Regions from separate parts of the Homo sapiens genome. Here region 2 is linked to region 1. A link means that fine-mapping ties the variant in region 1 to the expression of a gene that starts in the linked region. Tissue or cell type: whole blood. Region 1 holds a variant in brackets; the other region holds the start of a gene. All regions are shown on one strand. Distances are between the middles of the regions.

What was found. PIP is the estimated chance that this variant, and not a neighbour inherited with it, causes the effect.
Region 2: RAB5A starts here. The variant in region 1 is fine-mapped to the expression of RAB5A in whole blood (TOPMed, PIP 0.97).

The regions. Positions count from the first base shown.
Region 1 is chr3:20,003,537-20,008,749 of GRCh38, forward strand. The region is part of intron 1 of PP2D1 (protein phosphatase 2C like domain containing 1); the gene reads right to left. LOC124909352 (a long non-coding RNA gene) reads left to right here. Exons shown (of 2, transcript XR_007095843.1): 2 at 4,556-4,760. It also overlaps the pseudogene SAP18P3. Among named protein-coding and RNA genes, the nearest start is that of PP2D1, 6.1 kb to the right of the region's middle. The variant G/A (reference allele first, on the strand shown) is at 3,083.
Region 2 is chr3:19,944,556-19,949,687 of GRCh38, forward strand. RAB5A (RAB5A, member RAS oncogene family) reads left to right here and starts at 2,542. Exons shown (of 6, transcript NM_004162.5): 1 at 2,542-2,966. It also overlaps a transcript of EFHB not described here. RefSeq lists enhancers at 1,423-2,024, 2,435-2,604, 2,530-2,699, 2,561-2,610, 3,131-3,180 and 1 more.

The sequences.
Region 1 (5,213 bases):
GTTCGAGACCAGCCTGGCCAACATGGTGAAACCCCGTTTCTACTAAAAATACAAAAAATTAGCTGAGCGTGGTGGCTTATGCCTATAATCCCAGCTACTTGGGAGGCTGAGGCGGGAGAATTGCTTGAACCCAGGAGACAGGAGGCGGAGGCTGCAGTGAGCAGAGATGGCGCCACTGCACTCCAGCCTGGGTGACAGAGTGAGACTCCATCTCAAAAGATAAATAAATAAATAATTTAAAATTTTAGTTAAAATTTTAATCAAAAAATTAAAAACAGAAAAAAGCCCCTAGAATAAGGATATGAAGCAAGTACTTTTTGTACAGCTGTACAATGTTTTTGTCTTTTAAGCCAAATGTTACAAAAGAATCAAAAAGTTGTAAAAATTTAAACGTTTACAAAGTAAAAAGTTACTGTAAGCTAAGATCAATTTATTATTGAAGAAAAAATAGTTTATAAGGTTAGTGTAACCTAAGTGTATTGGGTTTATAACATCTGCAGTAGTGTGCAATAATGTGCTAGACCTTCACACTCATCACTCACTGACACCCAGAGGGACTTCCAGTCCTGCAAGCTTTATTCATGGTAAGTCCCCTATTTTAAAATGTTGCATTTTTTATTCTTTGTACAATGTCTTATTGTACCTCTTCTGTGTTTAGGTACACAAATACTTACCATGTGTTACAATTGCCTACAGTATTCACTACAGTAACGCACTGTACAGGTTTGTAGCCCAGGAGCAATAGGCTATAGCATATAGCCCAGGTGTTAGTAGGCTGCACCATCTAGGTTTGTGTAAGTACACTCTATGACGTTCACACAACAGCGACATTGCCTAACAATGCACTTCTCAGAAAGTATCCCCATCGTTAAATGATGCATGATTGTAATTACTTTTGTACTGCATTTCGTCTGCCTTAAAACACTTGTGTTCTAATTAGAGAGTTCACAAGAAAATGAATGGATTATGCCAAAACCCAGCAGAATAAGAAAAAGAATTGATAGTAAGGACAGAATTTTTTTAAAAACTACAACAAAGAGGTACAGGGCGAGGATAGGAAAGAAAAGATGTAGAGCTGGATGATATATTTCTGGAAAGCAGGCATCATTTTATACGCCTTCCTATCAGAAACATCTAGTACTGTACTCGGCACCTGGGGCCATTTTTATCCATTTCATGTACAATTTCTAGGGCATGAGATATTTTCAAGGGCCTATGAAAAGTTAGAGACCAGAAAAAAAAATACTTTGGTTACAAAATATTTTAAAACTTGATAAAAATCAAAGTTAGCTGGGTGCAGTGGCTCATACCTATAATCCCAGCACTTTGGGAGGCCAAGGCAGGGAGATCACTTGAGGCCAGGAGTTTGAGACCAGCCTGGGCAACATAGTGAGGCCTCGTCTCTATTAACAATTAAAAAAAGAAAATCAGGTGTGATGGTATGCATGCCTGTAGTCCGAGCTACTCAGGAGGCTGAGGTGGGAGGATTTCTTGAGCCTGGGAGGTGGAAGCTGCAGTGAGCCATGATTGCACCACGACACTCCAGCGTGGGCTACAGATCGAGACCCTGTCTCAAAAATAAATAAATAAATAACTTTATATATACATTTTTTTTTTTAAATTTATTTTTTTTGAGACGGAGTTTCGCTCTTGTTGCCCAGCCTGGAGTACAAGGGCGCAATCTCGGCTCACCGCAACCTCCACCTCCTGGGTTCAAGCGTTTCTCCTGCCTCAGCCTCCCAAGTAGCTGGGATTACAGGCATGCACCACCACACCTGGCTAATTTTGTATTTTTAGTAGAGACAGTGTTTCTCCATGTTGGTTAGGCTCGTCTTGAACTCCCGACCTCAGGTGACCTACCTGCCTCAGCCTCCCAAAGTGCTGGGATTACAGGCATTAGCCACTGTGCCCAGCCATAAATATTTATGAAATGTGACATTACAAAAACTAGTCAACTTCAACTCAGTTCATATATAAATTGTATTTGAGATGGGTACCTTTTAATGTGTTAGAGTAATGAGGGATGGAGCCTACGACACTAAGAATACTTGGAGCCTCTAAGTACTTAAAACATCTCAGACACATAATAGATATTCAACAGTTGAGTATCTATTGATATTCTATAGATAGTTGGTAGTTAGATAAGAAATTAACCCACTTAATTATAATGACAATATGATAATAATAATGAAATATATTTTATTATAAAAGGTATGCATCGTCATGTTCTTAAGTTCAATGCAGAAGGATACAAAGTAGAAAACAAAAGAATGTTTTTGTCTTCCCACCCCACTTGAACCCGGGAGGTGGAGGTTGCGGTGAGCTGAGATCAAGCCATTGTACTCCAGCCTGGGCAACAAACCCCAGCCCCAATAGTAATTATGTTATCTATCTTTCCAAATATAAATTTGAATATAAGATCTTTTCTGGCCCTGTGCAGTGGCTCACGCATAATCCCAGCACTTTGGGAGGCCAAGGCAGGTGGGTCACTTGAGGTCAGGAGTTTGGGACTAGCCCAGCCAACATGGTGGAACCCTGTCTCTACTAATAGTACCCCAAAAATTAGATGGGCGTGATGGCACACCTGTAATCTCAGCTACTCGGGAGGCTGAGGCAGGAGAATTGAATGAACCTGGGAAGTGGAGGTTGCAGTGAGCCAAGATCAAGCCACTGCACTCCAGCCTGGGCGACAGAGCGAGACACTGTTCAAAAACAAAAACAAACAAATAAACAAATACATTTTCTGAAGGCAAGTAGGGACCCATTTTGCATACCATCCTAAAATCTGATGTTTTCAGTAAATGCTAGGTCATGCACAGGAAGTTTGAATATGGAAAAACAAAACAATATACATCGTCCCTAGGTATCTGTGGGGCTTGGTTCCAAGACCACCCTCTCCATGCATGGATACAAAAATCTAAGGATGCTTAGGTCCCTGATATAAATGGCGTAGTATTTGCATCTTCCTTGTATGTTGCCTCACTGTGTCACCCAGGAGTGCAGTGGCCTAGAACTCCTGGGCTCAAGCCATCCTCCCACCTCTGCCTCCATAGTAGCTGTAACTACAGGCGTGCACCACCAC[G/A]CCTGGCTAATTTTTTCATTTTTAGTAGAGATGAGTTTTTGCCATGTTGGCCAAGCTGGTCTTGAACTCCTGGCCTCATGTGATCCACCCGCCCTGCCTCAGCCTCCCAAAGCGCTAGGATTACAGGTGTGAGCTACTGCATCGGCCCTCCCGTATACTTGTTTATTTATTTATTTGAGACGGAGTCTTGCTCTGTCGCCCAGGCTGGAGTGCAGTTGTGTGATCTGGGCTCACTGCAACCTCTGCCTCCTGTGTTCAAGCAATTCTCTCGCCTCAGCCTCCCAAGTAGCTGGGATTACAGATGCCCGCCTAAAATATATATACGTATGTGTGTATATATATATACATATATATACACACATATATATGTATACACACACACACACGTATACACACACACACACACACACACACGTATATATATTGTATTTTTAGTAGAGATGAGTTTTCACCATGTTGGCCCAGGCTCGTCTTGAACTCCTGACTCAAGTGATCCGCCCAGCTCTGCCTCCCAAAGTCCTAGGATTACAGGCGTAAGCCACCGCACCCGGGCCCTCCTGTATACTTTAAATCATCTCTTGATAGAATATACATAATCAATGTAAATGCTATGTAAATAGTTCTTATACTGTATTTTTATTTGTATTATTTTATTGTTGTATTGGTTTATTAGTATTATTATTTTAGGAGGTATTTTGGGAATATTTTCTATCCAAAGTTGGTTGAATTCACAGATGCAGAACCTTCAGATATGGAGGACTGACTCTGTTGTGAAAAATGTAGACTTAGGATTTTTTTTTCAGGGGAGGAAAAAGCATGTAACTTTACGTAACTGACTGAAAAATACATTCAAGAAATAGTAAATAGAGGCCAGGTGCGGTGGCTCACGCCTGTGATCCCAGCACTTAGGGAGGCCGAGGCTGTCGGATCACCTGAGGTCAGAAGTTCGAGACCAGCCTGGCCAACATGGAGAAACTCCGTCTCTGCTAAAAATACAAAATTAGCCAAGCGTGGTGGCGTATGCCTGTAATTCCAGCTACTTGGGAGGCTGAGGCAGGAGAATCGCTTGAACCCGGGAGGCGGAGGTGGTGGTGAGCCGAGATCATGCCATTGCACTCCAGCCTGGGCAACAAGAGCAAAAATCCGTCTCAAAAAAAAAAAAAAAAAAGAGAGAGAGAGAATAAAAGAAATAGGAAATAGAATATAATACGACCTCATGAACCCTGAAGGAGTGGGAGTAATCGTTATGTCCGAATAATCTCCTAGTTGTAACTTCTGTGACTGCAGGGGTCATGGAATCACCAGTCCCCTTTCTGCCAGATGTGGCGCTGCCAATCTCCTTAACTCGATAGCCAGATCTTTTAATATCTGTAAAAACCTATAAAATTGAAATGTGTGCCCTTCTTTCTAGCCTCTGGATAGACTTATTTTACTAAGCTCAGTTCTTTCAAGGTTGCATCTATCCAAGTGTAGGTCGCCAGCACGCTGGACGGTATGTTTCATCCGGAGAACTCGACCATTCGGTGGCGGCGGCTGTTACTGGCGGCAGCGGGCCTGTCTGCTTGTGAGGATCAGCTTCTGAAGCTCCTTCTTAATTTCCTTCTGGGTAATGTGCGACTCCACAGCCATCTTTCTCCTACGGTCTCAGACTTTGAATAAAAACAAAAACAAGTTGGTCGCGGTGGCTCACGCCTGTAATTCCAGCACTTTGGGAGGCCGAGGAGGGCGGATCACGAGGTCGGGAGTTTGAGACCAGCCTGACCAACATGGTGAAATCCGTCTCTACTAAAAATACAAAATTACCTAGGAGTGGTGGCTCATGTCTGTAATCCGAGCTACTCGGGAGGCTGAGGCAGGAGAATCGTGTGAACCCGGGAGGTGGAGGTTGCAGGGAGCCGAGATCACGCCATTGCACTCCAGCCCGGGCAACAAGAGTGAAACTCTGTCTCAAAACAAACAAGACAACCAAACAAAAAAACTGTCCCTGGGCGGGCGCTGTAGCTCACACCTGTAATCTCAGCTACTCAGGATGCTGACACTGGAGGATGCTTGAGCCCAGGAGGTTGAGGCTGCAGTGAGCTGTGATCACGCCACTGTACTCCACCTAGGTTACAGAGGGAGACCAGGTCTC
Region 2 (5,132 bases), 59 kb before region 1:
ATTTCTCTAAAACTACTACCGGATCTTTAGAAATGCCAGCCACCAGGGCAGCACTCTTCCAGGCAAACATTATGACTAAACTGTAAAATATTGTGAAAAGTATTCATGAAGGAGGTGAAGACAAAATCACTAAACAGGAACGAGTGAAGAAGCAACATACTGGAACGATGAAATAGGGAGTTTTTTGCAATTTATAAATTTCAGCATCAAATGTTTTTCATTGTGAGGTCTTCTTAATGTTCGTGATTCTAAATGTAATTAAGTTCACCAATACTTTGGGGGTCCCTATTATAGCAGTCAAGGGTCTTCTGTGAAGAACTGAAATGATGAATAACTGATGGTCACAGCCCTTAAAAACCTTATAATTCAATGAAAGGCTAAGGAGAAAAGTCCAGGTGCTCATTAGCTATTAAAATAAGGCAGATTTTAAGACAGCCATTATACAGAGTAAGGCAAAGTATTGTGAAATTACAGAAAAAATAATAATTGAATCCAGTAGAAGTATCTGCAGATGCGGTCCAAAGGAACTGGTGTCCTGGCTAAGACGGAGCCAGCAGTTATGGGCAATGATAGTGTTCCATGTGGAGAAAATAAAGTGATCAGATACCAAGATGGCAACACACAGGCAATATTCAGGGAACACAGACCAGATACGTGTGATCAGGGAACAAATAAAGAGTATGGGGAGAGGAATTCTATAGAAATAGAATGAAAGAAACTTGGGTTGGGACTAGAGTTAAAGAACTTTAGACTGTCAAGTAATGACATAGCATTGAACATTTTTTAGTAGAGTGGCTAAAATGTAAAGAATGGACAGAAAGAACAGCAGTATGCATTAATTTCAGTTTATATAAACACTACCATGGACCAGGTGTTGGGATTAGACTTCAAATTTGGGGATTAGATAATTTGTTGATAGAATGGACAATGGTTTGTGAGGAGAAGAAAGAGGTGAAGCTGATTCTGCAGTTCCAAGTCTGGGTGACTGGGAGGATGTTAATGCCAGTCTCTAAGCAGAAGCAGGTTTGGAGTGGAATAGGTTTCGTTTTGGGCATACTGTTGACATGACAAAACTGATGTCACATATCCTATTTCCTGACTCCTCCTGGGATTGTCCCAGAGCTATTACCATGATTAATAGTTCATATTGAACAACTCCTTGAGAATAAAATGCCACAGGTATCATTTACGTATGACACATTACGTTCTTCTGGCAACTAGGTAGTTGATCTGAAAGACGGGCTGTTCAAAGTTCAAATCATCTTAATTGCACAATGCCGCCGACTGTACGCCCATAAGATACCTTAACCCGGTACACTTCAAAGACAATATTCTCGCCCTTACAACAGAGCTATACATTGTAAACTGCAAACTGAAAAGTAGCCTTTATTCTGAAGGAAAATCAATTTAATATTCTTCCACTAAATTATCAAAACAATTTTTTTGGCGGAGGCTGGGGAGGGGGTGGTGGCTGAAGCCTCGCCAGAGACTGAATGTGGTGTGGGATTCAACTAAAGCAGCACATCTTCAGTAGGTCCCCCGTGGAGGGTAACGAACATCTTGGGTTGTCTTTCACCAGAATTGTGTTCAACAACTCACGTTCTGGAGCCAACCCGCCGCAGATCAGAATCCAGCTTCTGCACCACACAGCCGTGATCTCGGACAAGTTACTCAATCTCTTGTGTCTCAAATTCTTTACCTATAAAACATCTACAACTAGAACTGAAGACTTGGCTGCCAGGCACTGGGCTAGACATAGATTTACAGCGGTGAGGACCACCAAGGGGAGCTAAAATTCGAATGTAGGGAACAGACGATTAACAAGTTAGTTTCAGAATGAAAGACTCGAGTGTAAGAATTCAATGGGATAATTCCTGTAAAGCGTTTAGTACAGTAAAGAGCGAAGGGAAATTCTGAATAAAAGGCAGACACTATTTTAGGATTTGGCCTTCCCCGCCCCCTACCAAAACCACGTAAACTCTTAACAGAAGCGACTTCTTATTGTCAGGCGCCTAAAGGCGGCTTTTGGGATAGGGAGGGTCCTTTCTTCCTCCTTGGGGTAAATGCGATTTAGCAGCCTTTACCGACCTACCCAACCCCAGGGCCATTTTGTGGGAGGAGGTTCTCTCGTGCTAGACAAGTTCCCTCTAATAAAGCCCCTTAGCCGAGATGCCAGGATTGGGGTTAGGGAACCTCGCCGCTCCCACAAGGGCTGGGCACAAAAAACAAACAAAAAAACACAAGTTATTTTGATCTTCCCCCAAAGAATAGTAAAGGAATTTCCCCCGACCCCGGCCGCCAGGAGCCCAGAGACCCCCCAGCCTAAATAACAATGGCGCTGGAGAGGGCGTGGCCGCGCGTACCTGGGGTGGGGGAAGGGGAGAAAGGCGGCCAGTTCGGATCTGAGCCACTCGCAGGGTCACGTGACATCCTGCCTCGCCCCGCCCCGCGAACAAACCTAGGCGGGGAGGGATTCGGGAAGGGGCGAGGAAGCGGAAGGAGCAGGCGGACTGGCGATGATGGGAAGTGACGAAGTGGCGCAGTTCGCTGCGTGCAGCGACGTGGCGGCGGGGCCGGCACCGGGCAGCGGAAGTGGCTCCGGCGGTGGGACTTGAGTGTTTGTGTTTTGGTTCGTGAAGGAGCCGGCGGCTGGCCTTAGGGGAGGAGGCAGAGGGAGGAGGAGGAGGAAGAATTAGTCGGAACTCCAGCGCCGGCGGCGGCGGCGGCGGCGGAGGAGGAGAAAGGAAAGAGGAAGGGGGAGCGGCGAGAGGCGGAGACGGAGCCCGACAGGGGCGGCACCACGGCACGAGCCCCGCACAGTCCAGTGTGAGGGGAGCGGCGCTAAGAGCAGGCGACGCCGCCGCCGCCACCACCACCGCCATAGATACACTCTCATCCTACGGGCCACGCCTGGGCCTTGCTGCCAGGAAGCTTCGGCCCCGCAGCTCGGCTTGCTGCGGTCTCAGGTAACCGAACCGCCCCTCCTCCTGCGCAGCGGGGGCCTGGACCCCAGGTTATCCGCGGTCCCCAGCCTGTCCGCGGCCCTGCCGGTACTGAGACCCCCCACCCCTTCTCCCTCACGCGCAGCAGTGCCCTGGACCAGAGAACTATCGAACCCGGCGTCTTGTTCTGCCAGCCCTGGTGACTCATCCTCCAGGGGCTCTGGAGACCGGGATTTGGGGACTGACTGAGGGAGCGACGGGTGTCACCCTTTCCCTTCTCAAGATGGCGCCGTGGAAAGTGTACTGGAGGCCGCGGTTCCGCCTGGTCTCCGTCCTGGCAGTCCTGGGGGTCTCGGTCAAAGCAAGGCAGGTTCGGGGGAGGAGGTTGGAAAGGCCAAGGGACCTGGCGAGTGCTGCTTATCCAGGCGATCTGTAGTTGGCTATTAGCTACTCAGGTGCTCTCCAAGCAGGAACCTGGGCCTACTGCAGGTGTCAATGTGGGGAGCTCCGCCTATCTTCAACTTCCAAAGATGAGTAGTGTCGGTGGGTGGGAGGCTCGTCAAAATAGGCTGTCTAGAGACTTGTTTTCTGTTTGGAAGGTAGTGAACTACAGCGTTAAATAAATTCAAGATAACAGGACCGCTGAACTCCTTCACTGGGTAGAGACCATGGAACTTGCTCTGGCGTTATCTTCCCTGGAAGCTGCTTACCTCTGAGACTTTCAAACTTGTTAAGTTCTGAACGTCATAGTTCACATACTTGGTTTTTGTCTTGCTTAAATGGAATCAAAGCGTTCAATCAGTTGCCTTTCACATAATAAGAAAAAAACACTTGTACACCTCTGGGAATACTCAAGACTGCTCATAAACTTTATTCCTAAAGTAAAATGGAAGTGATAACTCAGCATTTGTATAAACAAAGTAAATGGAACAGTGCCTGGCACAAAATAAGTGCCCAGTCAATTTTTTGATCAAAGAACCCTTAGAAGGATTTTAACTATAGAATGAATAACAGTTATTTTCAAAAGATTACAAATGTATATTATGCAAAATTCTTGTTTTGCAAAACAGAAGTTTCAGTAAGCAGTGAATACAAATGAATGCACGTAATTTTTAACCTTAGTGTTATGCTAAGTGTATATTTACCATTAACTTTAGTTATTTCCTGTTTGAGATCCTTAGGGGGAGTAGCCACAATTAAGTAGCTTTAAACCTTAAAAGTCAAAGTGAAATCAGAATCTTGTTTGATTTTTTTTTTTAATGGGAGTCTGATATTTTCCCTAAAATTTTGGAAGTGCCGTAGAAATTTGGAGCATATTGTCCTTGATAAGTAATTTCTTGTTTTCTTAAATAAAAAGACAAATGGAAAATGTTTTGATTGTGTGTAATATCTGAAGATGTATTGGTGCATTTTCAGTATATATGATGTTCTATTGATATTTTATCATTTTCTTATCAAAGGAGCACATTATTGGCAATTTCAATCCCTACTATGTATATTAGAGATTGTTTACATGTATTGTTTTATTTAATTGTCACATCAGCTATGCAAGTTAGATATTATGGGAATAGAAACTTGGAAATTAAAGAGTTTGCCCAGACGGAAATTGGTATAGCCAGGATTACACCCCTAAATCTGGTATGTTTGTGGAGGAGGGGGCATTTTTATTTATACCTTGTTATTTGGAAGCAACTCAGATATTACGTCAATAAATCTGTAAATATTTCAGTATGTAATGGTAAAAGATAAGGACTCTAAAAAGCTGGTGTTTAGTTAAGGCAAGGAGGTAGTTTCATTGCCTTAAGAACTAAGATCTCGTGGACATGTTAGGGAATTCATTATGAAGAGCGTATTATAAGCTCATTTTATGGGAAAGGCATATTTCTTTCTTTTGTTTTTAATATAGAGACAGGGTCTCACTGTGTTGCCCAGGCTGGTCTCAGAGTCCTCCTGCCTCACCCCCAAAGTGTTGGGATTTACCGGTATAAGCCACTCTGTCCAGTGTGAAAGACGTATTTCTTATATGAGGTAGCTAAATGAAATATAGCAGGGTTTTTAGAGAGGGAATCATCAGGTTTAATATATTAGCATGTATTCGGATTTTGATTAAAGATAGAAGGAAACTGTTAAGATTGGTTTGTGAGTGGATTGAAAAAGGTTCTTCAAATATTCACTAATTCCTTAGAGATT